Homo sapiens: one gene and its partners. The protein of the gene in region 4 interacts with the protein of the main gene of each other region in a pairwise test. Each region holds a gene or a part of one and is shown on either strand. Other genes may lie near its edges.

Evidence for each region.
Region 1: the proteins of RAB33A (region 4) and LRP2BP interact in binary tests that used the Homo sapiens proteins (3 or more experiments, as listed by UniProt).
Region 2: the proteins of RAB33A (region 4) and PSMF1 interact in binary tests that used the Homo sapiens proteins (3 or more experiments, as listed by UniProt).
Region 3: the proteins of RAB33A (region 4) and RUFY2 interact in binary tests that used the Homo sapiens proteins (3 or more experiments, as listed by UniProt).

What each region holds. Positions count from the first base shown.
Region 1 is NC_000004.12:185,364,738-185,372,163, forward strand, and holds part of LRP2BP (LRP2-binding protein), read right to left. Parts: intron 6,329-7,426; exon of another isoform or gene 6,221-6,328; intron 6,122-6,220; exon of another isoform or gene 6,078-6,121; coding exon 5,903-6,077; exon of another isoform or gene 5,898-5,902; intron 5,449-5,897; exon of another isoform or gene 5,058-5,448; coding exon of another isoform or gene 5,013-5,057; intron 2,509-5,012; coding exon 2,443-2,508; 3' UTR 1-2,442. UniProt on the Homo sapiens protein: May act as an adapter that regulates LRP2 function.
Region 2 is NC_000020.11:1,128,299-1,135,724, reverse strand, and holds part of PSMF1 (proteasome inhibitor PI31 subunit), read right to left. Parts: intron 605-7,426; coding exon 419-604; intron 1-418. UniProt on the Homo sapiens protein: Plays an important role in control of proteasome function. Inhibits the hydrolysis of protein and peptide substrates by the 20S proteasome. Also inhibits the activation of the proteasome by the proteasome regulatory proteins PA700 and PA28.
Region 3 is NC_000010.11:68,397,278-68,404,277, forward strand, and holds part of RUFY2 (RUN and FYVE domain-containing protein 2), read right to left. Parts: intron 4,461-7,000; coding exon 4,343-4,460; intron 1-4,342.
Region 4 is NC_000023.11:130,167,251-130,175,045, reverse strand, and holds the start of RAB33A (ras-related protein Rab-33A), read right to left. Parts: upstream 3,085-7,795; 5' UTR 2,984-3,084; coding exon 2,726-2,983; intron 1-2,725.

The DNA of each region.
Region 1 (7,426 bases), on a different chromosome or scaffold from region 4:
ATCCTTCAAAAGACTATATAGAAAAGACCAGATAAAATACATTCAAGGAAGAGAGGCAATGTGAAGTTGTCAAGCCTGAAGAACTTATCACAATACAATTATGGGAAATGTCTATTTTAGGCATAATTCTATGCTATCATTTAAACTGTAGCTGTTAAGTTTACATTGCGAATGAGAAAGATCACTATTATTTTGTCTCTATATTTATTTATGATAAAATGTCATTTTTCCATGAGATATCAGCTACAAGGAATCTTAGAGAAGGAGTGTGTGTGTGTGTATGTGTGTGTGTGTGTGTGTGTGTAAGAGTAATGATCTGGAAGTCTCAATGCACTCGAGTTACAGACTCACCGCAGTCTCAGGTCAAGGGGTTTACTACTGTCCTCAGCAGTGGTAGTTTGCAGGGACTCGCTTGTGCCAGAGCATTAGCTTTATGGTAACTAGAGTAAACTGAAATTTTAAATTCTGCATTGGATTTATAGAAGACATATAAGCATAGCATGTTACCATGTATGGCACACGTCAAAGTTTATGATTTCTGAAACCCATCTTTAATGGCAGTTTAAAAAGTGCTCTTTACTTAGGGCCGATCTTTTATTATGTTCCTATTTTAAGATTCTTTTTATTTTTTTTTGAGATGGAGTCTCGCTCTTGTCACCGAGGCTGGAGTGCAATTTGCGCGATCTCAGCTCACTGCAACCTCTGCCTCCTGGTTTCAAGCAGTTCTTCTGTCTCAGCCTCCCGAGTAGCTGGGACTACAGGCGTCCGCCATCACGCCCGGCTAATTTTTGTATTTTTAGTAGAGACGGGGTTTCACCACGTTGGCCAGCCTGGTCTCAAACTCCTGACCTCATGATCTGCCCGCCTCAGCCTCCCAAAGTGCTGGGATTACAGACGTGAGCCACTGCGCCGGGCTAAGATTAGGTCAGGAGACTCCGTCTCAAAAAAAAAAAAATAATAATAATAATAATAATAATAATCTTTAGGAACTGGATTAAGTGTGGAGAAGAGAATACTAGTTGGGAATTTGGATCTTCAAGTGGTTGAAGGAATGTTACATGGGTGGTATTAAGAGATTTGAGACAGAAATACATGACCATTTGAGGATATCTCAAACCCGAGTCTGTTGAAATTTCTTCCCTTACACAAAGACAAAATGAAGTTCAGGCAATACAGACAAGCCAGAACATAAAACGAGAGCAAATACTTTTCTGCCATTCAACAGTTCTTAGTGACTATCACCTCCATATTAATTGCATTTTCCCATTACTAAAAAGAAATCTTGTTTAAATCCACTGTTGGGATGGTTGTGATTTATAAAATAAAGCCACATCCTTTAATATGTTTATAAAAAAAGGAATAGTTAAGGTATCTCTGAGACCTGTCTTCGATATGTATATTTGTTTCACAAATGAATAGCCTTGTACAATCTTATGCATATGGATCTTACTGTTTTTACTGTCACCTTTTGCCTTCATAGATGTCATCTATATACGGAAAGCCTTTTGCTAATTTTAACAATATTTAATTGTAGTTCTTGTAAATGATTTCATTGAGGCTTTTACCACAGGGTTTTAAAAATATGGAAAATGAGCTGAAGCACAAAGAAACAATTTGCTTTACTTTTCTTACGAATATTTTCATATAGCAATTGCTTTTTGTTTTATTACACATTCTGCATATGTATGTAGCAGTTGTTTTACTCATTAAGATCTTTGAGGGAAGATTTGGAGGGGCAAGATTCTAAAGCAATGTCTTATAACCCACTTTTTTGAAGTTTATATGTAATAAGCCAATTATTTATGAGCTTTTTAAGAATAAAGGATGTCTCAAAAGGCTTAGTGCAGTTTTAGCTTTAATAACTTCAGAAGTAGAAATGCTGCACACACTTATTTAAGTTTAATTCTTTAAATGTCTTTTACCCTTAGTTTTGTGAAATTTTAAATTTTTAAAATTTTAAATGACTGAAAATTTAAATTTTAAATGACTGAAACAAAATTTAAACATTATTATTCAAAATTCACAAAACTAAGAGACAAATTTAAAGAATTAAACTTTCAAATGATGGTTTTAAATAAGTTTGTTTCTACTTCTGAACTTACTAAACTAAAGCTAAACTAAGTATTTTTGGAGACTCGGTGTTTAAGAAAGGATAAACGATACTTGCTGTATAGAATGGTTTTAATACTTGATATGGTCTCGGCCAGTCTGTAGGGTAAGAGGTGGACCTCTGAGGACTCTTCCAGCAATTTGACCTTGTGTCTAGGTTTCAAGTTGCAAAACTTAACAGCGTACGAATTCAAGAACGAAGTAACATGTCACCTGTAAAATACCCAGGATAGTGTAATTTGTGATGTGCAAAATAACCAAACATAGCTACTGTAAAAATACACACATTGTGAGGTGTTAGCATTGATGATCTTTGTTGAAATACATTGTGGTCTAAATTCTTTGACGAATAAGTAAGGAGTGAAGTTCATCTGCCAATGCGGGATTCAGACGACAAGCCTTAAAATCAAAAAGAGTCAGATATTTAGATACATTCTAATTGTTTGGGTCTTTCTTCTTTTTTTTTTTTTCTTTTTTGATTCATTTTTAAGAATAGTAAAGTACAGTGAATTTCAAGAAAATTTGTTAAGATACTTTCTATTCTGATGTCCTACTTTAACCTATGCAGAATAGATCAATACTCAAAATAACCATGTTATTCTCATTTGAAAGAGATATTTTATCAATGCCAAGAATAAAGGGAACTTAAGCACCAATGATAGCATTGTATGTTATGAATTATTAAAATAAGTAAAATGGAGAGCATTAACATTTGGCCTCAAAGTTGTTATGATCTCATTATGTGAATAACAGCATCTGTAAAATTTTATTTTAAAATATACAGCTAAAATAATTTTATTATGTCTAAATAGTGACAAGGTGCATAATTTCTAGAATGTCAACAATTTGGGATATAGAGCTCTCATCCAAACCCCATTCTATGCAGTAATTGTCCCTTCAGTACCCACGACAGTTGGTCACTAGGTATTTGCTTGGTTGCTTCCAGTAGCAGGAAGTTACACATTCTACATATGTAGAAGTTTTCACCTTCAGAGAAAACTTGTGTTTTTCTTTGTTTCCTGAACTGTTGTGTTAGAAAACTCTCCCTTATGGCCGGGCGCGGTAGCTCACACCTGTAATCCCAGCACTTTGGGAGGCCGAGGTGGATGGATCACGAGGTCAGGAGATCGAGACCATCCCGGCTAACACAGTGAAACTCCGTCTCTACTAAAAATACAAAAATTAGCCAGGCGTGGTGGTGGGCGCCTGTGGTGCCAGCTACTCGGGAGGCTGAGCCAGGAGAATGGCGTGAACCTGGGAGGCGGAGCTTGCAGAGAGCCGAGATTGCGCCACTGCACTCCAGCCTGGGCAACAGAGCCAGACTCCGTCTCAAAAAAAAGAAAACTTTCCCTTATTTTAGGCTGGTGTTTCTCTCCATGTACTCCAGAATCCTCGAAGGGTCCTAACAGAATACATAATGCTGGTTTCACAGAAACCTAACACTCTAGGAAGTGGGAGTCACCCTGCCTGACGGTGGCAGAGCCGAGAGCAGGCCTGGGTCTGTCGCCTCCAGGTCCCAGTTACCATCTTACTGCCTCACCTTCTGCCATAACACACTGCCTGCCATGGGCACTGATTCTGCTCCCTCCCAACCTGTTCCCTTCCTGCGGGACACTGCCTCTCCCTCCCAACCCGTTCCCTTCCTGCGGGACACTGCCGGTCCAGTGAACACCGCTGTCGGGACACCTTGTGTCCTTTTGCTCTGAGGGAGACCATTTCTGTTCCTCATATCATGCGTCATATGATATCATTCCAGACCCTTCACTGGTTTACTGCCTCTAAATGATCTCCATTTTATCAGTATCCCCATAATGTACAATGGCCTAAACTGAGTACAGTATTCTAGATGTGTATCCTAGAGTCCTAGAGTACAGTATCCTAGTTGCAGAGTAATGGGGCTATTTTCTCCCATCGTATGGAAAATCGTTCTCAGATTGGAATCTGTTTTGTTTTTTTTTTTTTTTTGAGATGGAGTCTCACTGTGTTGCCCAGGCTGGAGTGCAGCGGCACAGCCTCGGCTCACTGCAGCCTCCTCCTTGCAGGTTCAAGCGATTCTCATGCCTCAGCCTCCCGAGTAGCTGGGACTATGGACATGCGTTACCATGATGGGCTAATTTTTGTATTTCTAGTAGAGATGGGATTTTGCCATATTGGACAGGTTGGTCTCACACTCTTGGCCTCAGGTAATCCTCCCACCTCGGCCTCCCAAAGTGCTGGGATTACAGGCATGAGCCACGGTACCTGGACTTTTTTTGTTGTTCTAGTCAGGATGACTATATAGTATATTTCAAAATATATTTGACTAGAGTTTTCTAAGGATATTAAGGATAGGATAGAACCTGAAATCGGCTTGGTTTGGAAATTGATGTAATACAGAGAGCTTTTTTTTTTTTTTTTTTTTTGAGACAGAGTCCCAGGCTGGAGTGCAGTGGTGTGATCTCGGCTCACTGCAACCTCTGCTCCCAGGTTGAAGCAATTCTCCTGCCTCAGCCTCGCGAGTAGCTGGGTTTACAGGCACACATTGCCATGCCTGGCTAATTTTATTTTTCAGTAGAGACAGGATTATTTAGTATTTTTAGTAGAGACCCAGTTTCACCATGTTGGCCAGGCTGGTCTCGAACTCCTGACCTCAAGTGATCTGCCTGCCTCAGCCTCCCGAAGTGCTGGGATTACAGGCATGAACCACTGTGCCTGGCCAGTACAGAGAACATTTAAATGAAAAAAGTTAGACAACTGTTATTCATGCTAAGAATGGTGTAGAGGTAAATATCTTAAAGATCAGTTGCATTTGGCTGTGTGCTATGTGTCTATGTTTATGTTTTAATATGGCTTTGATGCTCTGGAAGTTTTAATTTTAAAGTAATTTAGGGTTCCCAAACTTACCTGACATTGGAATCCCACAGGGAACTTCAACAAATACGCTTCTGTCTCCTAGAGACCATGATTGAAATTTTCTGAAATAAGGCCTGAACTTTGGAATTTGTAAAAGATCCTCGGGTGATTTTAACATGCAGAGAAGCTTGGGAACCACTGCTGTAATATCAGAGTCAGCCAAGGGACTCAGAAGACTCCCCCACTCAGGCTGAACAATCTGTGTTCCACAAACACTGCTCTACCAAGTCTGCTATGATGTAATTCTGACTCGTGGATGTGATGGACCTAAGATGTGCACAGCTTTTTGGTTTTTCTTTTTTTAAAAAAAATCTAAACTTAAGAGTTAGTACTCATAATGATCTCCCTTACACCCCCTCCACTACCACACCCCTTGCTTTTTAGTATTTACTTTGAGATGTGAAACGCATTTGGGATCTAAATAAATTGATCACATGGATTAAAATATGAAAGACTTATTTTAACTGATTACCTCAAACTCAAAAATATCCCGCCTAAGTGGGGTAGATGTCACGCTCAAAAAAACTTTAAACTCTGTACTAGAATAAAAAACTTCATTACTGTACTAGAATGAACGTATACATTCACACTTGTTCTAGATGAAAGAAAAACTGTTCAGCTTTAAGGTCTTGGTGCTGGGCCTTAGGCTGCAGATAGTAGCAGAATGAAAGAGTAATTTGCATCAAAATAGGACTTTTAATCATTGGAGCTAAATTATGCTAATAAGATTCTGACAGAATTGTCTGCAAACAATCTGCATGTCTGACAGCTTCTCTGTAGACAGAGGTTATCTGCACAGTAATTGAGTAGAAAAAACACTAATCCGTAAAACTATTCAAGTTGCAGCTAAAAGCCTGGCAGTTTCTCTTTGGGTGAATTTATATTTTGTTCTAAAGCTTACTTTAGAATAATAGTGTTTAGCGGTTGTTTCATCCCTGGTGATGCCCAAGCCAAGCTGAAGACACCTTGCGTGGTAGAAGGATGCCATTGCCATGCCTCTGCCGATGAACTCCGGGAGACAGTCTGTGACCTGGGCGATCATGGGGATGTCGTGAACCTCATCATAGTCAGCGATCCTGAGAGGATGTAGAGTTGTGAAATGGAAAAGACATCAGTTATGGTAAGTGTTTGTAAAACGATGCGCCTAGAGACTGTCCTTGTGCCTGAAGTGATTTCTCTCTACTGCTTTGAGAACTAAGTTGTTTGCTGTGTGGGGAAGGGTCCATGTAGGCACCTCATACCAGGAGAAGATGAGCTTCCCAGAGTGGTGACTTCACATGTCTCTGTAATTATGCTCAGCAGGCTCAATAACCACTGGAAAACAAAGGTATGTTTCTTTTTTCTTCTAATATTACTACTGGAAGTTTAATGTCACTTTGTGGATTTAAACTGAACGGAGAAGAAAGCATTTTCTATTTCTTTGGATCACGTATGGAAACATCAACCTTCAGTTTGGACGTTAGCCACATAGGACCAGAAAACCCTTTCACTAGCACATCTTCTTTAAAAATAGACAATTGGCTGGGCGCGGTGGCTCACGCCTGTAATCCCAGCACTTTGGGAGGCCAAGGCAGGCGGATCACGAGGTTAGGAGATTGAGACCATCCTGGCTAACATGGTGAAACCCCGTCTCTACTAAAAAAGATACAAAAAATTAGCTGGGCATGGTAGCGGGTGCCTGTAGTCCCAGCTACTCGGGAGGCTGAGGCAGGAGAATGGCGTGAACCCGGAAGGCAGAGCTTGCAGTGAGCCGAGATCGCACCACTGCACTCCAGCCTGGGCAACAGAGCGAGACTCCGTCTAAAAAAAAAAAAAAAAAAAAAAAGGATAATGGAAAGAAGTCATCCTTTATACCCAGACACAAATATGTACAATTGTGTGAGAATGTGATCCAGTCAACTCCATGTTAACCTCAATGTCATAGGGAGTAGGGATGTGGAAAATAAGGGAAAGCGCCGAAGATTTTAAAGAATGATTTAAAGTCTTAGTTCTAACTAAGATGGGCACTTGCTTTGAGACACTGGCAATCACTCCTGTAAGTGGTCTGCTGCCTGGAGCCCGAGACGCTGGGGAAGCGGGGTAGAAGCAGCCCCTCCTTCCCTTCATCCTCTCTTGTAGATGACTGCCCTGAGCTAGGGCTCGGAGAGGGGGGAGACCTGGCGCTGTGGGAAGGGTGTGATTGGGAAACACCAGCACACGCAGAGTCTGATGGCCACTCTAGAGTACACCCAGGTCTGTCTCCCCGACCCACTGCTTTTATACACTGTGGGTAAATACGTGTAGGAAAGTACATGGAGCCTTACGGACTCCGAGAAAAGACGTCTTTTATATTTTATTAGATATAGTGTCAGTCTTTTAACCATATTCTCATGTTACAGTTGTTATGAAGCTGTATTTCAGTGGTGCAGTTATAGAACTGCATGAC
Region 2 (7,426 bases), on a different chromosome or scaffold from region 4:
ATCTCCTCTGGGCTAGTACCTCTACATGTTTACATTTTCTCAGAAAGACTGGCCCAGGGCCCTGTCTAGACAAAAAGCTCTGGAATGAATTAGCTGTGAATTACCTGGGCAGCAACCTTAGACTACTGCACATAAGCCCCAGAGGCACTGATCCTTGGACAGACTCAGGGGCTCTGTGTGGCCCCTAGAAAGAAATCAGGCAGGCTTAGGATTTTGGGTAATTAGGGTGACTAGTAGCAGTTCAAGAACTCACTGCTCCACTTACGTCTCCACTTTCTAACTCCATGCACCCCAAGACACTGATCATTTTGTTGAAAACACATACGGGCCAGGGATGGGGTCAAGTGGCAGGATGGGGATAGCTGGCTGGAATCCCTCTACAGAAGCATGGGCTTCCCGCTAGGCACTCTGTACTCACCAGGGAGGCTGCCGACTGGTGTGTGGGTGGTGTGGAGGAATCCGGAGTGGGTCCACCTCTCTGGCGGTAGCAGGGGGGAACTCCCGGTGGGGACTGCTTACATTAGCCTTTTCCCACTGCTCATGGATAGGTGTGATGATTCCAGACACAATACGAGACCGAAGCTCCTCACTGTTCTTGTAGGTCCTGCAGGAAGCAGATGAAGAGTCAACTGCTTGCAGTTGGCTAGGAACCCTGGAAGTGGTATTCTGGCTGCAACGACGGCGGCGGCGGCGGCCCTGATAGCTCCTGGCATTGCGCTTGGCCTGTTTATAAGTGGGGGAACAGGCCGCCTGCTGGACCTGGGTGAGGGGGGCAACAGCCCCACGCTGTCTCTGAGATTTGGGCCCAAGCTTCTTAGGCATCTGAGTTGCCCCTCCTTGTTTACCACCCCATTAGAAAGAGGTGAGGGTGTAGGGGCACAGGGCCTGGATTGGCTACTCCTCTGTCCTCACCCGCCTCACCCCTCCCTCAGCTTCATTGTGTGTTCATCACGTGTCATGGGAAGGGTCATGGAAGGCAAAGGCTCCATGGGGAGGATGAACCAGGTTCCTGTTCCAGGCAGGCAGAGCTCTGGGGGTTCAAGGTCCAGTTCTGTCACTAACTCAGGGGTCCTCGGAAGGCTGCCCCTACCACCTGTCCCATCCTGCCTGGGCCTCTTTTTCTATGCCTGTGAGAGACAAGTGACGTGAGCCACAGCTGAGGTGTGGAGGCAGGCTGAGGTAACAGAGTGGGCAGGACTCCAGGCTTCCTAAAACACTGGTATTTTAAAATGAACCACATCCTGGCCCATAAAGCAAAGCTCACAAATGTAAAATAACTGAAATCATATAAAGTATGTTCTCCAACCATATGGAATCATAACAGAAATCAAAACAAAAAGTTAACTCTCTAAATACATGAAAATTAAGCAACATACTTCTAGAAAATCCTTGGATCAAAGTCACAAAAAAGAAATATATAGCACTGAATTAAAATGAAAATAAAAACATACGAAAATATGTGGGATATAACTAAAGGATTGCTGAGAAGAAACCTCATAGCACTAAATGCTTACATCAAAATAGAGGAAGGAATTCAAATCAATAACCAAAATTCTGACCTAAAGAACCTAGAAAAAGAAGAGCAAATTAACTCAAAGCAAGCAGAAGTAATAAAGGTAAGAACAGAAGTCAATAAAAAAGAAAAACAAGAGAGAAAATGAAACAAAGTCAATTCTTCAAAAAAAAAGAATAAAACTGACCAACTCCTGGCGAGACTGACAAATACAAAGAGAGGACACAGTCACCAATAACAAGAACGAAACAGGAGATATTACAATAGATCTGTAGCCACTGAAAGGATAATAAGAGAATACTAAGAACAACTTAATCCAACAACTCAGAATAGACCAATTCTTAAAAACCATAAACTACAACTCAGCCAAAATGAAATAGATAATCTGAATAGTTCCATTAAAGAAACTGAATTACACTTAACATTCTAAAAAAATAAAATAAAAAAACAAAAACCAAAAATCTCCAGGCTCAGATGATTTCAGGAAGAATTCTACCAAACATTCAAAGAAGAATTAACACCAATTTTACAGTCACTTCTAGAAAATATATGAGGAGGGAATACGTTCCAATCCATTTCATGAGACCAGTATTACTCTGGTATCAAAACCAGGCAAAGACTACACCAAAAAAAAAAAAAAAATATATATATATATACACATATATAGACTAGTATATCCTATGAACTTACACACAAAAAAAATCCTCAACAAAATATGAGCAAATTGAATTTAAAAATGTATAAAAAGAACTATATGCCATGACCAAGTATGATTTGTTCTAGGCATGCAAGACTGGTTAATAGTCACAAATCAATCAACGTAATCTACCATATCAATAAGCTATGGAAGAAAAATCATATGATCATATCAATTGATACAGAAAAAAGCTTTTGACAAAATCCAACATGATAAATCCATTCAAGATTAAAAACTCTCAACAAACTAAGAATAAAGGGGAACTTCTTTAACCTGATAAAGAACATTTACAAAAAACCTACCCCTAACAATATACTTTACTGTGAAAGACTGAATGCTTTGCTCCTAAGATTGGGAACGAGGAAAGCATATTCTTTCTCATCACTCTTATTTAACATAATATTGGACATCCTGACCACTGCAATAAGGCAAGAAAAACAAAAGGCATTCATATTAGCAAGTAAGGAATAAAACTGTCCCTATTTGCAAATGACATGATAGTCTACCCTGAAATTCCCAAGGAATCTACCAAAAAAAAAAAAAAACAAAAAAACCCTAAACACCTTGAATTCAGCAAGGTGACAGGATAGAAGAGTTCAACACAGGAAAATCAACTACATTTCTACACACTAACAATGAACATTTGAAAACCAAAACAAAGGACAGAATATGCCATTCATAATCATCTCCCTTTCTGCTTTAAACAAATAACAAGCTATGTACAGGATCTATATGTTGAAAATTACAAATGATACTGATGGAAATCAAATAAAACCTAAATATTAATAAATGGAGAGATAAGATATATCATGTTCATAGCAAGAATGTCAATTCTCCCCAAACTAATCTATAGGTTTAATGCAACTCCTATCAAAATCCTAGCAAGGTTTTTCATAGATATACACAAGCTTACTCTAAAGTTTATATGAAAAGGCACAGAGGCCAGGTGCGGTGGCTCACGTCTGTAATCCCAGCACTTTGGGAGGCTAAGATGGGTGGGTCACGAGGTCAGGAGATCGAGACCATCCTGGCTAACATGGTAAAACCCCGTCTCTACTAAAAATACAAAAAATTAGCCAGGCATGGTGGCACGCATCTGTAGTCCCAGCTACTCAGAAGGTTGAGGCAGGAGAATCACTTGAACCCCGGAGGCAGAGGTTGAAGTGAGCCAAGATCACACCACTGCACTCCAGCCTGAGCCTTTTTGAGACACAGTGAGACTCTGTCTCAAACAAAGAAAAAAAAAAAGAAAGAAAAAAGAAAAAAAAGAAAAGGCACAGAACCTAGAATAGCTACAACTACCTTGACGAAGAAAAAGTGGGAGGAATTATTCTACTCAATATTAAGGCCTACAATAATCAATACTGATAGAGTAATATTGACAGAGGAAGAGACATAGAGATCAATGGAAAAGAACAAGGGATCCAGAGATAGATCCACAGATGTACAGACAACTGATTTTTGACAAAGTTTCAAAAGTAATTCAATGAAGGAATAACAAATGATGTTGGGGCCATTGGACATCCATGGGTAAAAAATGAGCTGCTTGCCTGCCCAAGCTGGGTGGGAGGGTAAATTCAAGTCTTCTTTCCTTTTAATCAGATCAGAGGGAGGCCTCTGATCTCCCTAGGCATGTGTAAAATTCAGGCCTGATTAAAAAACCACCAGGTCCTGAAGGAGAAGTTCTCACACAATTTCTAAGCCTTGAAAGAACAACTGCCATTTTGGTTGTGGCAAAAGACAGCCTACCATCTCATCCGACACAGAAAGGGTACAGCAGAATGGAACACAATAGGTTTATATTTCTTAGCAAATCACAGTTTGCTCACTGAGGAGCACAAATTGCTGGAAGAGGCAAGACATGCCACAATGACCTAATAAAGAGGGCTACATGGAGGAAGCTATGGCTGAAAGGCATAGGAGGGAGACAGGGCCTCTGATCAGGAGGCAGAGCCATACCTCAGCTTTCACCGCCCATTTCCACGGAGATGACTCCTGGTGATCACATTTTTTTCCCCTTTGTGTATTTTACTAAGAGCTGGACTAAGCGCTAAGCACTCTATGTGCTGACATCTCATTCCATTCTCAGAAAAACCCTGAGGTAGTACTATTGTGTCCCTCATTTCACAGTAATCAAAAAACAAAACAAAACACAACACATATCCCCTCCCTCACACACAAACCCCTCAAACAAATGTACTTAAAAAACAAATAGAGACAGGATCACAATTCTCTTTCAGTATTGCTGAACAGACGGAATGCTCTAATGAGCATGAATGGCCAGTATAATTCCTAGGTTCTTCCACAGGTTTTGTCAATTTCTCTCCCAGTGGAAGTCCAGAGTGAAGAAGTCAAGAGACCACACTCCAAATGTCCCTCCCTTACCCACTAAGAGGGGCCAGGGTGTCAGGGAGTGTGCAACACCCAGAGGCGCGGCATTCTGCCGGCCAGGCCTGGCTCACTTCCCCCTTTCCTCAGAGGCGCAGCATTCTGCCGGCCAGGCCTGGCTCACTTCCCCTTCCCTCCCTTTGTCTATTGCATGCAGAAGACACCCAAACCCTGCCCTCAAGGAGATCACAGGCAAGGAGGGAAGACCAACCCTAAGAAGGTAAATGTAAAATATCTGATGGATTAAATGCTTAAAAAATGATGTTTTGATCCAGGGCAACACAGCAAAGACCTCATCTCTACAAAAAATAAAAAACTGGCTGGGCATGGTGGCACATGCCTGTAGACCCAATTATTTGGGAGGCTCAGGTGGGAGGGTCACTTGAGCCCAGTAGGTTGAGGCTGCTTGGCCTGTTTATAAGTGAGCTGATTGTGCCACTGTACTCCAGCCTGCCTGGGCAACAGAGGGAAACCTGACTCCAAAAAAAACATTTTACTAAAATGTTTTGAAGCTGTAAGCCTGGGGGCCAGAGGAAGCTTCTCTAAGGAACTGACGTTTAAATCGGTAACCAAAAGATAAACAGGAGTTGGCTACGTGAGGTCAGGGAGAGCACTTTAGACAGAGGGAAGAGGTCTGAAGAGGGCAGAAGAATGACACTGTGGCTGAAGCACAGGGATGCGGGGAAGGCAGTACAAGGTGAGATTGAAGGGGTGAATGCTTTAAGGCCTCATCAAGGATTGTGCTCTTTATCCTAACAGCAATGAGTATTCCCTAAAGACTTTTAACTGTGGTAAAATATGCATAAAATTTACCATCTTAACCATTTTTAAGTGTTCAGTACTGTTAAGTACATTAACACTGTTGTGCAATCACCTACCATCCATCTCCAGATCTCTTTTCATTTTGCAAAACAAACTCTGTACCCATTAATCACTAACTCCCCTTCCTATTCCCCTCTTGCCCCAGTATCTGGCAACCACCATCCACTGTCTGTCTCTACAAATTTGACTAATCTAGGTACTTTTAATAGAATCACACAGAATTTGTCCTTTTGTGAATGGCTTATTTAATTTAGTATAATGTCTTCAAGGTTCATCCATGTTGTAGCACGGGCCAGAATTTCCTTCCTTTTTAAAGCCGAATAATATTCTACTGTATTTACATACCAAATTTTGTTCATCCATTCATCTTATCAATGGACAGCCAAGCTGCTTTCACCTTTTGGCTACTGTGAATAATGCTTCTACGAACATGGGTGTACAAATATCTTTTCAAGACCTACTTTCAATTCTTTTGGGTATATGCCCGGAAGTGGACATGCAGGATTATACGGTAATTTTTTGAAGAACTGTCATATTGTTTTCCATAGTGGCTGCACCATTTTACATTCCCAAGAGTGCACAAGAGTTCCAATTTCTCCACATCCTTGACAACGCTTGTTTATTTTCTGGTTATTCTGATACTACCCATCGTAATGGGTGTGAAGCAGCATCACTGAAGGGTTTTAAGCCAGAGTTGTTAACTATGATCTGATCTATGTCTGAAAGACTGGTCCAACTGCTGCGTGGGAAATACACTGGAGGGTGGCATGCAGGAGGGGAATATGTAAAAGACCTCCTCACACAGAAGCTGCATGGAAGAGGGGAGGAGAAATGAGGAGTGGCCAGAATGTGGAGGCCAGTGGTTTGAAAGTCTGTGAGGACTGGAATAGGTTCAAAGAGGGTATTGCTGATTAGATACTATTAAATGCAACAGGGTTTCTGGGCAGTTCTGAGGTTCGGTTAAGGTTTGATAACTGTGCATTTATAGTGATGCCAAGCTCACTCTAAAACTCTGAGGGTGGCTAGGTGCGGTAGCTCACACCTGTAATCCCATCACTTGAGGTCAGGAGTTCGACACCAGCCTGGCCAACAGCAAAACCCTGTCTCTATTAAAAACGCAAAAATTGGCTGGGTGCAGTGGCTCACGCCTGTAATCCCAGCACTTTGGGAGGCCAAGGCAGGTGGATCACGAGGTCAGGAGATCGAGACCATCCTGGCTAACATGGTGAAACCCCATCTCTACTAAAATACAAAAAAAAAAAATTGCCAGGCGTGGTGGTGGGCACCTGTAGTCCCAGCTACTCGGGAGGCTGAGGCAGGAGAATGGCGTGAACCCGGGAGGTAGAGCTTGCAGTGAGCCGAGATCGCGCCACTGCACTCCAGCCTGGGTGACAGAGCAAGACTCCGTCTCAAAAAACAAAACAAAAAAACGCAAAAATTAGCTGGGTGTGGTGGTGCACACCTGTAATCCCAGTTACTCGGGAAGCTGAGGCAGAAGAATTGCTTGAACAGTCACACTGTACTCCAGCCTGGGTGACAGAACTAGACTCCACCTCAAAAAAATAAAATAAAATAAAAAATAAAACCCTGAGGAGGTCAATGAAGATGGGGGGAAAATCCCTATAATGGAATAAAGCAGACATAAATCAGCTTAACTATATATAAAACAGATAATTTCATTATACTGATTTTAAAAACAAGCACTAATCTAAGTACCTTTGGAACACACTACTCTGCCTACATCTTTTGTGGAACATAGTTAAAAGACAAAAAGAACTGGAAATAAGTCATTTGGAACTTTACTTAATAGGTTTGTTCTTGGTAGGCACTGATGTAGCAATTCAGAAAATATTTGTGTGTATTCTAGGATCAAATAAATAAGTAAATACATTGATGCTGCTGGGAATCAGGGTTCTCACCACAGGAGAAGGGAGATATAAGTATGGAATAAGAGAAAAAGAATCCTGTAGTGTTATATTAAAAACAGAGGTGGCAATTTAAACTTA
Region 3 (7,000 bases), on a different chromosome or scaffold from region 4:
TGCTGTAGGCAATTATTAACCAATTGTTAACTATTTGTGTATCTAAACACAGCTAAACATGGAAATGGTAAAGTCAAAATACAGTATTATAATCTTTTGGAACCACCATCATTTAATGAAATGTTATGCAGCCCAGGACTCTGGTGAGAATACTTCTATAAGAAATATTTAGGTGGGCACGGTGGCTGACACCTGTCATCCCTACACTTTGAGAGGTCAAGGTGGGAGGATCACTTGAATCCAGGAGTTAGAGAACAGCCTGGACAACATAGGGAGACCCTGTCTCTATATAAAAAAAATAAATTAATTAAATTTAAAAATAAAAAAAATTAAAAAAGTGAAAAAAAATCAAAATGCCAGGTGTGGTGGCATGTGCCTGTATTCCCAGCTACTCAGGAGGCTGAGACAGGAGGTTGCTTAAGCCCAGTAGGCAGAGGCTGCAGTGAACAGTGATTGCATCACTGTACTCAAGCCTGGGTGATAGAGTGAGACCCTGTCTCAGAAAAAAAAAAGAAATATTTAGTCTGAATGAGCTTAGCCCTCTAAAAATAAATATTAAAACTTCACCAGGCCGGGCCCAGTGGCTTACACCTGTAATCCCAGCACTTTGGGAGGCCGAGGCGAGCGGATCACAAGGTCAGGAGTTCGAAAGAAGCCTAGCCAACATGGTGAAACCCCGTCTCTACTAAAAACACAAAAAATAGCTGGGCTTGGTGGTGGGTGTCTGTAATCCCAGCTATTCAGGAGGCTGAGGCAGGAGAATCACTGGAACCCGGGAGGCGGAGGGTACAGTCAGGCAAGATTGCACCATCGCACTCCAGCCTGGGCAACAAGGTAAGATTTGTTCTCAAAAAAAAAAAAAAAAAAAAAAAATTCTACAATAAGGCACCATAATGCCTTCAAAAACATAGGTAACATTATATCTGAATTTTAAAAATCATAACAAAGCTAAGAGGGTGCCAGGCTAGTAATTAAAGAGAAATCACTGTGCTGCTTACTGGTTTTCAAATGTTTCTTTAATTTGGTTGCATTTAAGAAATTAAATCTCATACCTCTCTTACCCAAGTTCTATCTGTTATTAAAAATAAAAGTGGCCTGGCGTGGTGGCTCACGCCTGTAATCCCAGCACTTTGGGAGGCCAAGGCGGGTGGATCACTTGAGGTCAGGAGTTCATGACCAGCCTGGCCAACATGGTGAAACCCCGTCTCCACTAAAAATACAAAAATTAGCCAGGCACAGTGGCATGAGCCCGTAATCCCAGCTACTCGAGAGGCGGAGGCAGGAGAATCGCTTGAACCCAGGAGGTGGAGGTTGCAACGAGCCAAGATCCCGCCACTGCACTCCAGCCTGGGCAACAGAGACAGACTCAGTCTCCATAAAATATAATAATAATTTTTTTAAAAAGCAACTTTTATACCACTTTTTTTTTTTAAAGAGAGTGGTATCATTCACACTTTTATATTTTCTTATGCAGAGAACATTTTGGCAGATAGTACAGGAAGAGACTTGATCTTCACTTCTAATAATTAACGCATTTCTTATAGCTTAGCATTTTAATGAACACCATCAGAAAACAGGTTTTACTATTGTAGAGTCTGGCTTTTTAACAAAATATGAATACATATTTTCATATTAAAATGAATCAAATCTTACATTTTTGTTTTTGAGAGTTGAAATTCTGTTTTTCCTCTTTGTTAAAAATCTTTACACCTGATATACCAAAAATATCAATTGTGAACAAATATCATTTGATTTTTTTTTTTTTCCAATTTTTTTTGGTGGGGGAGACAAAGTCTCACTCTGTCACCCAGGCTGGAGTGTAGTGATACGACCTTGGCTCACTGCAACTTCTGCCTCCTGGGTTCAAGCAATTATCCTGCCTCAGCCTCCCGAGTAGCTGGGACTATAGGCGTGCACCACCACACCCAGCTAATTTTTTTGTATTTTTAGTAGACATGTGGTTTCGCCATGTTGCCCAGGCTGGTCTCGAACTCTTGGGCTCAGGCAATCCACCCATCTCAGCCTCCAAAGTTCTGGGATTATAGGCGTGAGCCACCACACCCAGCCACTTTATATTTAACTCTAAAAACTGGGTTTAAATCCTGCCTCTGCCACTTTTTAACTATAATTTATCTGGCATTTATTTTTCACATCTATACAATTATAATAATAACCTCTACCTGTAAGACTGATTTAAGCACTAAAGGAGATAATTCATGTAAAACAGGTACCTTATTACTCTAACACAGTGCTCAACAGTAGCCACTTACTTTTATCACTCAATAAATTCCAATTTACAAACATTTGAACATTTGAACATTCAACAACAAAATAACAGCAAAACACTACCATATTCCCCACAACATATATAAACCCTAAGTTGTAAAACTATGAGAAAACAAACGATTAACCTTACAGAAAATGCTTAATGCAAAAAAAGTTATCTCATTAACAAGAATTAAGATAAACTAAAGGGAGGCTGGGCGCTGTGGCTCACGCCTGTAATACCAGCACTTTTTTTGAGACAGAGTTTCTCTCTTATTGCCCAGGCTTGAGTGCAATGGCGTGATCTCAGCTCACTGCAACCTCTGCCTCCCGGGTTCAAGCAATTCTCCTGCCTCAGCCTCCCAAGTAGCTGGGATTACAGGCATGTGCCACCACACCGGCTAATTTTGTATTTTTAGTAAAGACAGGCTTTCTCCATTTTGGTCAGGCTGGTCTCGAACTCCCAACCTCAGGTGATCCGCCCACCTCGGCCTCCCAAAGTGCTGGGATTACAGGCCTGAGCCACTGCGCTGGGCCAATTCCATCACTATTGAGGACAGGAGTTCAAGACCAGCCTGGTCAATATGGCAAAACCCCCATCTCTACTAAAAATACGAAAATTAGCCAGGTATGGATGGTGGCACATGCCTGTAATCCCAGCTACTTGGGAGGCTGAGGCACGAGAATCACTTGAACCTGGGAGGCAGAGGTTGCAGTGAGCCGAGATTGCACCACTGCACTCCAGTCTGGGCAACAGGGTGAGACTGTCCGTCTCAAAATAAAATAAAATAAACAAAGACAAACAAAAGAGAACACTTACATTTTAATTACACTCTAAAGAATATAAGAACTGGTCAGGCACGGTGGCTCACGCCTGTAATCCCAGCACTTTGGGAGGCCAAGGCGGGCGGATCACAAGGTCAGGAGATCAAGACCATCCTGGCTAACATGGTGAAACCCCGTCTCTACTAAAAATACAAAAAATCAGCCAGGCATGGTGGCATGCACCTGTAATCCCAGCTACTCGGGAGGCTGAGGCAGGAAAGTTGCTTGAACCCATGAGGCGGAGGTTGCAGTGAGCTGAAATCGCACCACTACACTCCAGCCTGGGCAACACAGCAAGACTCCATCTCAAAAAAAATAAAGAAAATAAAAATTAAAAAGAAAACTAAAAAAAAAAAGAATATAGGCTTGGCGCGGTGGCTCACGCCTGTAATCCCAGCACTTTAGGAGGCTGAGGCAGGCGGATCACGAGGTCAGGAGATCGAGACCATTCTAGCTAACATGGTGAAACCCGATCTCTACTAAAAATACAAAAAAATTAGCCGGGCGTGGTGGCGGGCGCCTGTAGTCCCAGCTACTCGGGAGGCTGAGGCAGGAGAATGGGGTGAACCCGGGAGGTGGAGCTTGCAGTGAGCCGAGATCGTGCCACTGCACTCCAGCCTGGGCGACAGAGCGAGACTCCGTCTCAAAGAAAAAAAGAATTTAAGAACTGAGTCTTAACACTTTACACCTACAAAAAATTTTAAATACTCATGAAAGTATTCTTAGCTAACATACTCCAACTTTTAAGACATTTTACATACATTTGTCTGATGAAACAGGCTGGTGACATTATAGGTACCAATTTTCAGAGGAAGCAAAGAAATGTACACCAGTCCTAGGGTATACAACTGGCTTATCTGAGAACTGGAATATCCTGAGCCTGTGCCCTGGATTCAGCCTAAATCAGTCTTTCCTCAATACTTACTGACTTTCTACTACAGGCAAACTAATTTAACACTCAGAAAACAAAGATGCATAACTGATATATCCTATCTTAAAAGGACTTTCAATTTCCTACAATACAAGGCAGAATGGTGAGTGGTTAATTTTGATCGAAGAGGCTAAGAAAAACTTCATAAAGGAAATGGGATTTGAGTTGAGCCATAAAGAATGAACATAATTTTATTATAAGAGGATTAGAAGAAGGGGACTTAAGACTAAGAGAAGACAATAAGCTAGAGTGTGAGGTACTTTGGAGGAACAATGAATACACTTCTGTGGCTAGGGATGAACAAGTAATAGGCCTCCTTACTTCAGACCAGGTAGATCCCGGACACTAGCTCCTATTTCCTCTGCTTCGGGGTACAGCTTCTCCACCAGTTCCAAAGGGCCCCAGATGGTTTTGTTGTAACTCAAAAATGATTTTCTTACTGAAAAAAAGAACACATAATGCACACAATGTCAACATAAAAAACTGTAGTAACTTATTTTTAAATATTTAGTTTCAACATTTCTAACTTAACATACAATTATTCAGAGATCTTTCCTCTTTTATCCACTACATATCCCAGTGGATCTGGAGCCTGTGCCAGTAGGATCCTGTTGCCCATCCTGCTATTTTTTTCCACATGATAAAAAGACACAGTGACCATTCTTTCATATCAAATATGCAGTAAGGTAATTAAAGTGAAAAATGACTGCACTCATTCTCTACCAATACCAAAATAAAGGCTGGTGGCCCTAGCTGATTGATCTTTATAAGTTTATTAAACAAACCAAGCACAAATAAAAAGTTATTTTATTTTTTATAATGCCTTTTTTTTTTTTAGTAAGTAGAGATGGCATTTTGCTATGTTGACCAGGCTGGTCTTGAATTCCTGGCCTCAAGCGTTCCTCCTATCTTGGCCTCCCAAAGTGCTGGCTGGGATTACAGGCATGAACCACCACGCCCAGCCTAAGAAGTTATTTTAATTTTAAATATGAAAAATTGTGAATTTCCTTTTCCTTGTATTTTATTCTGAGATTTGGTCAATATAAAACCATGAAATTGCCATACATTTTTGTTATTACTGACCAGATCTCCTGCAAATACAGGGTGCCTATCATATACACTACCCAAGGACACCCAAGATAGGCAATTTTTCCCAGGGGGAGAAAAGCACACGCACAAAGTAGCTTTATAATGATTCATCCAGATAAGCCTATAACTGCTAGGACATGGTTCAACATAAGTTGTGAAGTAAAGGAAATACAGTCTAAAAATAGTTTAAAATTTAACTATTTTGGCCATAATTTGGCAAACTCCATTTCAGCAGTCTTGGGGAAAATCAAGATGCACTCCTGATTTTTTCTGAAATCAAGATGCACTCCTGATTTTTTGAAAATCAAGTCTCACTCCAGAGTGAGACCCCCATCTCAAAAAAAAAAAGAGGAGCATGGTTAAATTATGCCATATACATACCATAAAATATCGCACAGCTATTAATTCTGATACAGATGTCTATGTAAATGGAAAGATCTCCAAGCCATATCTTTTTTTTTTTTTTTTTTTTTTGAGACAGAGTCTCACTCTGTGTCTCCCAGACTGGAGTGCAGTGGCATGATCTCAGCTCACTGCACCCTCTGCCTCCCAGGTTCAAACAATTCTCCTGCGTCAGCCTCCCAAGTAGCTGGGACTACAGGCATGCAGCACCACACCCAGCTAATTTTTGTATTTTTAGTAGAGATGGGGTTTCACTATGCTGGCCAGGCTGATCTCGAACTCCTGACCTCAAGTGATCCGTCAGTCTCAGCCTCCCAAAGTCCTGAGATTACAGACATGAGCCATCGCACCCAGCCACTTTTTTTTTTAAAGAAGGAAGTCACAGAATAATGCTAATAGCATGATTACAATTACAGTTAAAGAAAAAAAAAACAGAAAAGGGATAACAGAATATCTAATTCTCCCATTTTCTTTCTTTTGAGACAGAGTCTCACTCTGTCACCCTGGGCTGGAATGCAGTGGCACGATCTCAGCTCACTGCAACCTCCGCCTCCCAGGTTCAAACAATTCTCCTGCCTCAGCCTCCTGAGTAGCTGGGATTACAGGCGAACACCACCAGCCTGGCTAATTTTTGTATTTTTAGTAGAGATGGGTTTTCACCATGCTGGCCAGGTTGGTCTTGAACTCCTGACCTCAAAGTGACCCACCCACCTCAGCCTCCCAAAGTGCTGGGATTACAGGTGCCCAATTTCCTTTAGAGAGGTTAATAGAAGAGAATGAATAAAAACCATGTTTTGCTCTGTGTACTTCTCTGTTGTTTATGTACAAAAAGAGTATCTTTCGCTAGTATTTATACATTTTAAGAAATTGCTTTAAGTCTCTAAAGAAAAAGAAATGAGTATGCTAATAACATCACACAGGATTTCTCAAATTTTGATGTCAAGGCTTCCTTCTTGTTTTGAAGTACTTTTTATTAAAACAAAGTTTAGGTAAATCTTTGAATCTTTTTTTTTTTTTTTTGAGAAAGGGTCTCTCTCTGTTGTCCAGGCTGGAGTACAGTGCTACACTCAGAGTTCACTGAAGCCTCGACCTCCTCAGGCTAAGGTGATCCTCCCACTTCAGCCTCTCGAACAGCTGGGACCACAGGCATATGCTGGGATTACAGGCATTAAGCCACCGTGTCTGGCCAGTCAAGCTTCTTTTACTCTATAATAGTCACTCTAGTGTACAACTCTTACATAGCCCTCTACATAGATACTCATCGTATGAACTAGAGGCCAAAACTGTGAACAGTTATTATAAGTAAAAGCACAGTTATTATGCAATGAATATTTTTAAATTAAATATAAAACCAACATTTTATATGTAACAATAATTCAATATGTACTGAGAGTGGAGTACAATATCTGCTGTTATCATCTTCAGGGATGGCTCACATTTCTACAATAACTCCATCCAGAAGATATTTCTACATATGTTCGTGTATAT
Region 4 (7,795 bases):
GGGCTCTTTGCTTATTCAATACATAGTTGTTATTATTATTATTATTATTGCCTACTCATTGGAGGCTTTTCTTGATGTTCATACAATTGAGTTCATCAGGACTCAATTGTAAATGCTTTGATGGGGTGAGGGTGGGGAACATAATGATTGGAGACAGCAAATGGGGCTTCAATACCCTAGGGATGGCCTTGATAATTAATTACAGTGTGGCTCTAACTACACCAAATCAGTTGTCCCTAGCAGGGGTTCATGTATGTGCTACCCCGGGACACAGGCAGGCAGCCCAGAAGAGGCCACACCCTTGCTCTTAGACTGAGAAGAGCTGGCTGAGACCTCTCTACCACTCTCCTCCAAGGGCTGGTATGTTACAGCCCAAAAGCCTTCTATTGCTGGCCATGGTCTAGGCCAGACCTCGGACTGTCACACTGGACTTTTCTCTCTCTCGCAAAGGACGAAGCCCTTGGCAGTCATCTCCAAGCATGGCTTTGGCATGTATTCCTTGAACAACTTCAGGCTAGCCAGAGTGCGAGGCCAAATCTTCTCTTATCTAGATCACGTGCTAGCCGCCAGGCTCTGCCATCTTCCCACAGACATGCTGGTCTCTCGCCTGCCAGCATGGTCCTGAGATTGCAGCAGCTTTACAAGAAGCAGGGTCACCATCTCCCCACTCCCACACGCCACTCTGAGCTCCTTTGGAATCTGCCCTCAGAGGACTCCTCCATGAGCAGTGTCACAAGGCTTTGTCCCCTTGAAAATATCATCTTCCCCAAAAAAGCCTGTATTAAGCACTTATCTGCACGTGGTGTTGTGCTGAGCTCTGTTTCTAGTGAGTCACACTGTCACAGGCTCTGCCCTCTGGGAAAAAGTCTGGAATCTTTGCCAGAGACTGTAAAGTCCAGTTTGGCTAAGTACTGGGGTGTTAGAAGAGAAGGAATAGTTTAAAAATTCCTTCAAGGCCACTGGGTGGTGACTCTTCCACTCGTGTTCATCTGTCATCCCTCACTTTCTAGCTTCTTCCTCCCTCCTTCTTTAGATTCCCAAACACTTCATTTTTTCCATCTAAATTTCAGATGGACTTATTTCCCACCTTTTAAATCCAGGGAACTCTTTGGCTCACTGTAGCACTTGATTTTAAGCAAATGGGAGCATTAGGTTTTTGAGGTTTAAGAGCCCATCTGTAAAGATATTTCTACTTTGGATTACAAAGTCATGTTTTAGAAATTCTAGAATCTTATAGCCTTACATTAAAGAAGCTAGACACACTAGAGGAAGTCTTAACCAAGCAAATGTCAACAGCCCCAGGAAAGGACAGAGACAGATACCGCCTTTGACTTTAAAAGGAAATGTAGCACTTCCCTTCCAAAATGCAAGGGGCAAAAAAGATCACGATTTCAAAATAATGTTCTATCTTCCTACCCTGGGGCTCTCCCTTATCAGTACTGAGCTGTCCATCTTCCTGACATCTAGTGAGTTGGCCTAGTTTCTGAAGCCATTTTTAGAACACGTTCATTTTAATAATCAAGGAGTCAGGAGTCTCGCACAGTTTCAAGTGTTTCATCAGTTTCATCAGTTACTCAGCCCTTCTCTCCACGTCACTCAGAGGAGGGGCCTTGTGGTCACTTTGGCAGTTTGACCAGCAAGAAGGAGGCTTACTGTCACCCCTGACTCTGTCTAAGGTCCAACCATACGCTCAAGGAAAGGCCAGCTGTGAGCCTAGAGGAGTTGTCTTCAGTGATCCCAGTGCCTTTATAGAGGCCCCCCTCTGCTCCCCATGACACAAGAAGTTGCCCTTGTTATGTCCTCCCTCCCGCCATCCCCTGCACATTGACATATTCCTGTCATATCAGGTTTCTACCTTTTCTGAATTAAAGGTGAGCACAAATGGTCAGACAAGAATATTTGCACTTAGCCTATTACATAAACTCATGGAGGGGGAGGATTGAACATTCCCCTGGCCCTCGGTTAAGTCACTGCATTTTTACAAAGACCTGAAGACAATACCAACAGAATGAATAAGGAGCAGTTCATGTATTAGATGCCCCAGACAAGTAAAGAAGATATCATTCCAGGGGGGCTGTTACAAAAAAACAAGTTTTGTCTATTACGAAGGGCTGGACCCTGCCTCAATTTCTTTAAAAGGGCTCATGGCTTTCTGCCAGAACCACCCCACTCCACCGCCATCTCAACTCAGCCCTAATTTTTTAACTATAAACTGCAATTTAAAATAAAGCAGCTTTTTCATTCTCCATGGATTTCCATCATTTCCTTCCCTCTAACGCCTTGAGGCTTAGCCAAAGTGGGGTTTTGCAGCCTATCGGCACCCAAGCAGTAGAAGAGACATCAGGATGTGTAAAGTGCTTTGGGATCCATCCCAGAGACTAGGACCCACAGATGCCTCCTGCCTCCCTCTGCCCACAGGTGCCGCTGCTCGGGGTAGGGGTCATGGATGGGAATCCAACATGCTTTTCCTGGCAGGACCTGTCAGGCAGGGGCTAAGGGTAAGAATGCAACCCCATTCTCAACCGCCCTAAAAAACTGAGTGAAGTGGGGACGGGGCCCCGCTGAGAGAGGTGAAAAGGGGTGAGGAGGAGCCGAGGGTCCTCGGCTCAGCAAGAGGCGAAACCGCCACGCGCTGGACGCTGGACGACGACAACCGCTAGAGCTATGCCTCGGGCGAGGTCCCCTCCCGGGTCCCACCCTTCCTGGACCTGACCCCCTGGATCACCTTGATCTTCTCGCCCTCGATTTCCACGGTCTTCTCCCTGAAGTCCACGCCGATGGTGGCTTCAGTCTTGTCTGGGAAGGTACCCCCGCAGAAGCGGAAGGTCAGGCAGGTCTTGCCCACGTTGGAGTCCCCAATCACGATTATTTTGAAGATGCGAATCTGCACGTACTGGTCCAGCGACGAGTCGAGCTCCAGGGACGCCAGGCCAGCGGCCGAGGCGGGCTGCAGGCTCCCATGGCCCAGGATGGGCTGCGCCATCTCCCCCGGACCGAACCGGGGCCCCAACCCCCCTTGAGGGCTCCACACAAAGAGAACGTCCACGTTCGTGCGCTCGAGGCGAGCGAGCTCTGTGCGTGTGTGTGTGCGCGCGTGTGTGTGTGTCCGCCCGTGTGTGCGTGCGCCGGCACCGTGTGCGCGCGCGCGCGTGAAGGGGGTGCCTCTCACTCCGGGCCCCCCTCCTCCTCCTCCAGCGCACCCTCCTTGCAGCTCGGAGGCACCAACACAAAAGCCAGGGAGAGGAGGAGAGAGGGAGGAGAGTGGACGAGCCGCGAGCCTTCTGCCTGTGTGCGCCCTCGGACCGGATGCTCTGGCGAAGGACCCTACCGCGCTGCTCCAGCCGCCGCCGCGCCTCGGCCCACACCCTCCCCTGCCTGCATTCCCGGGACGGACCCGAGGGAAGAAGCCTCAGGAGGAAAGAGACGGGGTGGGGACAGCGGCACACGCCACCCCGGGATAGACTTCTTTCTCCTTGCCCCCGTTTATGTTATAGGTTTCGGGCTCCCCACCCCCACTGGCTCGAGCGCACGGGGTCAGCGGGCAGGGAGCACAGCTGGGGAGGACAAAGAGCTGCACCTTAAGACATCACTGGATCACTTCGGCCTCCCTGGAGCAACGCAACTCTGCGGGGATGGGGTGGGGGCGGAGGCACCTCTTTCACCTCGGGAGCAGCGGGCAGCTGAGCCGCGCCTTCCCGGTCCCCGCTACCCCGTCCCCTCTACCCCCACCCTCTACCCGACCCGCGCCTTGGGATAAAGGGATGCTCTGTCTTAATGAGTGAGCAGGTGCACTCGCGGGCCCCAGGCAGCCTGGGAGGCCGCTGCCAAGACACGCAGTGGGTTGTCCGGGGCCTGTACAGCTGAGAGGAGGGAGCCAGCGGGCACGCGTGTGCGTGTGTAGGGGGTGTAACTGTTTCTGTTACAGACTTGCCAGATGTAGGGGGGCGCGTACCAGGCGCCAACATCCCCTTATCACACCACGCGCACCCATCCTCTGAATGTTCAGGAGAGCGGCTCCTATTGGCTGCCGCAGTCGGTTGTGTTTGGCTGGCCAATGGGGAAGGCCCGCCGCGGGAGAGGGCCACACAGAGGCTAGGAGAAGGGGGGGAAGCTAGTGGTGGCAGTTCCAGCAAAAGGGGACTTTGTTTACGGGGCTAGCCATTACTGGCCCAGGTGGAGGATCTTGGGACAATGGCATAAGCTCCACAGTGCCTTCCATTCCCAAGCCCTCCATATAACCATAAGTCCCTCCAGAACGCTGGAGTTTCAGAGGGAGTTGGGAATCCCTAGGAGGGTTCACCTCCCCCTGCAGCTGAATGTAGAACAAAGTGGTTGGGTCTAATTTGCCAGAAGCCTAGATTATGCTTGGAAGATGATAAATGAACACAACCTCCTTACAGTATTAGGGGGCTGCTGCCCAAAGCTTACTAATCATCACACACATCTTGGTCAAGACCAGTATTCCTTCTCCCTAAAGTCATTCGCGGGTTCAGAATTTGTTTGAAATCGACTTTACTGGGGGTACAATTTACATACGATAAAGTGCACCCATTTGTTTCTTTTAAGACTTTACCTCTCCCCCTACATATTTCATAAGCTAAGGTAACACTGACACATGTCACTAGCACTGACTCGTGAGTTATTGCTAATGCCATCAAGGTCAGGGATTCAAACAGCACAGTTGAGCTGCCATCTTATTTGGGAGGTTGAGCTGCAGGAAGAGACAAACATGACCAAATCCATTTCTGCTGAGAGAAAAACAATTCAGTGCATCAGTGATATACCTGAAAGCAAATTGGAATGTGACTACTCAAGGACGTCCAAGTTACTCAGAATGGCATCTTCCAGTTAATAAGTTTATTAGCTGAGCTAGCAGATATATTTACAGCTAACCCTTTTATCATATATGTGGGTCGCCCATTTCTAAAACCCTACATTATACTACTCAGCATTAAAACTACCCAGATAAGGATTTCCTCTTAGTTGGCTAATCCAAAATCATCCTTATGAATACCAATTTTCATTGTATTATGTATCAATCATCATTGTACAGTATTTTTGGTTTTGATTAGTCTGATGCCTAGTTTGCTGGATCGTTCCCCTCTGTATTGGAAGTTAATGCCCCTGATGATCTTTATCTACAGAATAGCTTTAAGGTGGAGAGGGGTAACTATTAATTAGGTACATCCTGTACACAAAGTAGAAAGGGGCTTTGCCCTTTGCCAATTCACAGCTAGAATTAATGCTAACTTCCTGAGAGATATTAAAAAAACATATGTACATAATAAGATTATTTCAATGTAAGCTTCTAGCAAAAACTTGTCACTGAGTCTACTTTTGTAAGGAAGAAACTTTGATTTCTGAAAATATGATATCTCAAAATGGGCTTCTTGCCCTAATAAAAGGTGTCTGTTACTTCTGTGGGGTGAGACTTTGGGGGATTTCCACTTATATTTTTTGGAATTAATTCAATGAGTATATATTGCTTTTGAAAAAAGATAAAAATATAATTTTTAATTAAAAGGACAGGAAAACTACCTTATTGTACCTATTGTAAAAAAATTAAATGTACTGTACAATGCCCTTTGTGTTAATTGTGCATTATTAAATTACTTTCAAATACATGCAGTTGTTTTCATAGGTACCTGATTATCATGATTTTGACAGTGTTTTCCAGTCTCTTTTGCCATCAGATATAATTAACTTTGTATTTAATCAATCCATGATTATTGGTTTTTACAAATATCAATAAAAATCAATGCAAGGCTGTTAAAATGTTAAGTAAATATAAATAATTTTTACCTTACTTTGGAATTGATACTTTTTTTTTTTTTTTTTGAGATGGAGTCTCGCTCTGTCACCCGGGCTGGAGTGCAGTGACACAATCTCGGCTCACTGCAAGCTCCGCCTCCCAGGTTCACGCCATTCTCCTGCCTCAGCCTCCCAAGTAGCTGGGACTACAGGCGCCCGCCACCACGCCTGGCTAATTTTTTTGTATTTTTAGTAGAGACGGGGTTTCACTGTGTTAGCCAGGCTGGTCTCGATCTCCGGACCTCGTGATCCGCCCGCCTTGGCCTCCCAAAGTGCTGAGATTACAGGCATGAGCCACCGTGCCCGGCCTGGAATTGATACTTTCAATATTTATCCCCTGGCCTAAAGTGATCCACCCTCCTCGGCCTCCCAAAGTGCTGGGATTACAGGCATGAGCCACAGAGCCTGACCATATTTTCAATATTTATCCAAAGGAGCTCTAGATAAAATGTCACCCATTGCCTGCACTTCTGAACACTGATCTACTCTGCTTAATGGGTAAGGGAGCCCTGGATCATCTTCACCACATAATGACTACTTCCTAGGCCTGGCACAGTGGCTCACACGTGTAATCCCAACACTTTGAGAGGCTGAGGCAGCAGGATTGCTTGAGCCCAGGAGTTCAAGACCAGCCTGGGCAACGTAATGAGACTGTCTCTTAAAGAAAACCAAAAAACAAAACTACTTCCTGGGTTAAACTTCACAGAAGGGTGTCTTTGTAGGCCGGGCGAGGTGGCTCATGCCTGTAATCCAAGCACTTTGGGAGGCCGAGGCGGGCGATCACCTGAGATCAGGAGTTCAAGACCAGCCTGGACAACATTGTGGAACCCCGTCTCTACTAAAAATAGAAAAATTAGCAGGGCGCGGTGGCATCTGCCTGTAATCCCAGCTACTCGGGAGGCTGAGGCAGGAGAATTGCTTGAACCTGGGAGGCAGAAGTTGCAGTGAGCCGAGATACTGCCACTGCACTCCAGCCTGGGTGACAAAGGGAGACTCCGTCTCAAGAAAAAAAAAAAAAAAAAAAGAGTATCTTTGTAATTTCTTTCTTTTTCTTTTTTGAAATAGGGTCTCGCTCTGTCATCCAGGCTGGAGTGCACGGGAGCAATCACTGCTCACTGCAGTCTCGATCTCCTAGGCTCAAGTGATCCTCCCATCTCAGCCTCCTGAGTAGCTGGAACCACAGGCACATACCACCACGCCTGGCTAATTTAAAAAAAAAATGGTAGAGATGATGTCTCATTATGTGCTCAGGCTGGTCTGGAACTCCTGGCCTCAAGCAATCTTCCCACTCGTCCTCCCAAAGTACTGGCATTACAGGCATGAGCCACTGCACCCGGCCCTGTAATTTCATTCTCTATCCCCATTCCACCAAAAAAAAAAAAAAAGTAACTTCATTACCTCCAAAGTTAGGGCCCAACTCTTGCCAGTTCAAATCTGGCCCCCCACCATACTTGCCTGTCTTTATCACTACTTCTTTATTTTTTTCTTTTTGGAGACAGAGTCTTGCTCCATCATCCAGGCTGGAGTGCAGTGGCACAATCTTGGCTCACTGCAGCCTCCACCTGGCAGGTTCAAGCGAGTCTCCTGCCTCAGTCTCCCTAGTAGCTGGGATTACAGGCGCATGCCATGGCGCCCGGCTAATTTTTGGATTTTTTGTAGAGACGGGGTTTCACCATGTTGGCCAGACTGGTCTTAAACTCCTGACCTAAAGTGATTCACCCGCCTAGGCCTCCCAAAGTGCTGGGATTACAGGCATGAGCCACGGAGCCTGACCACATCAATACTTCTTAGTATGTACTCTCTATCATTGTCCCCCGAAAATGTGCTGGGTTTTGGTTTTTTAAAACAGTTCCAAGCCTTTTCATTTAACAAACAGCATGGTGCTTCCTCTAAGACACTTTACAAATATTAGCTCATTTAGTCTTCCGAACACCCTCCTGAGATTTGTAGATGAGGAAAATGAGGCACAATTAAGTGACTTGCC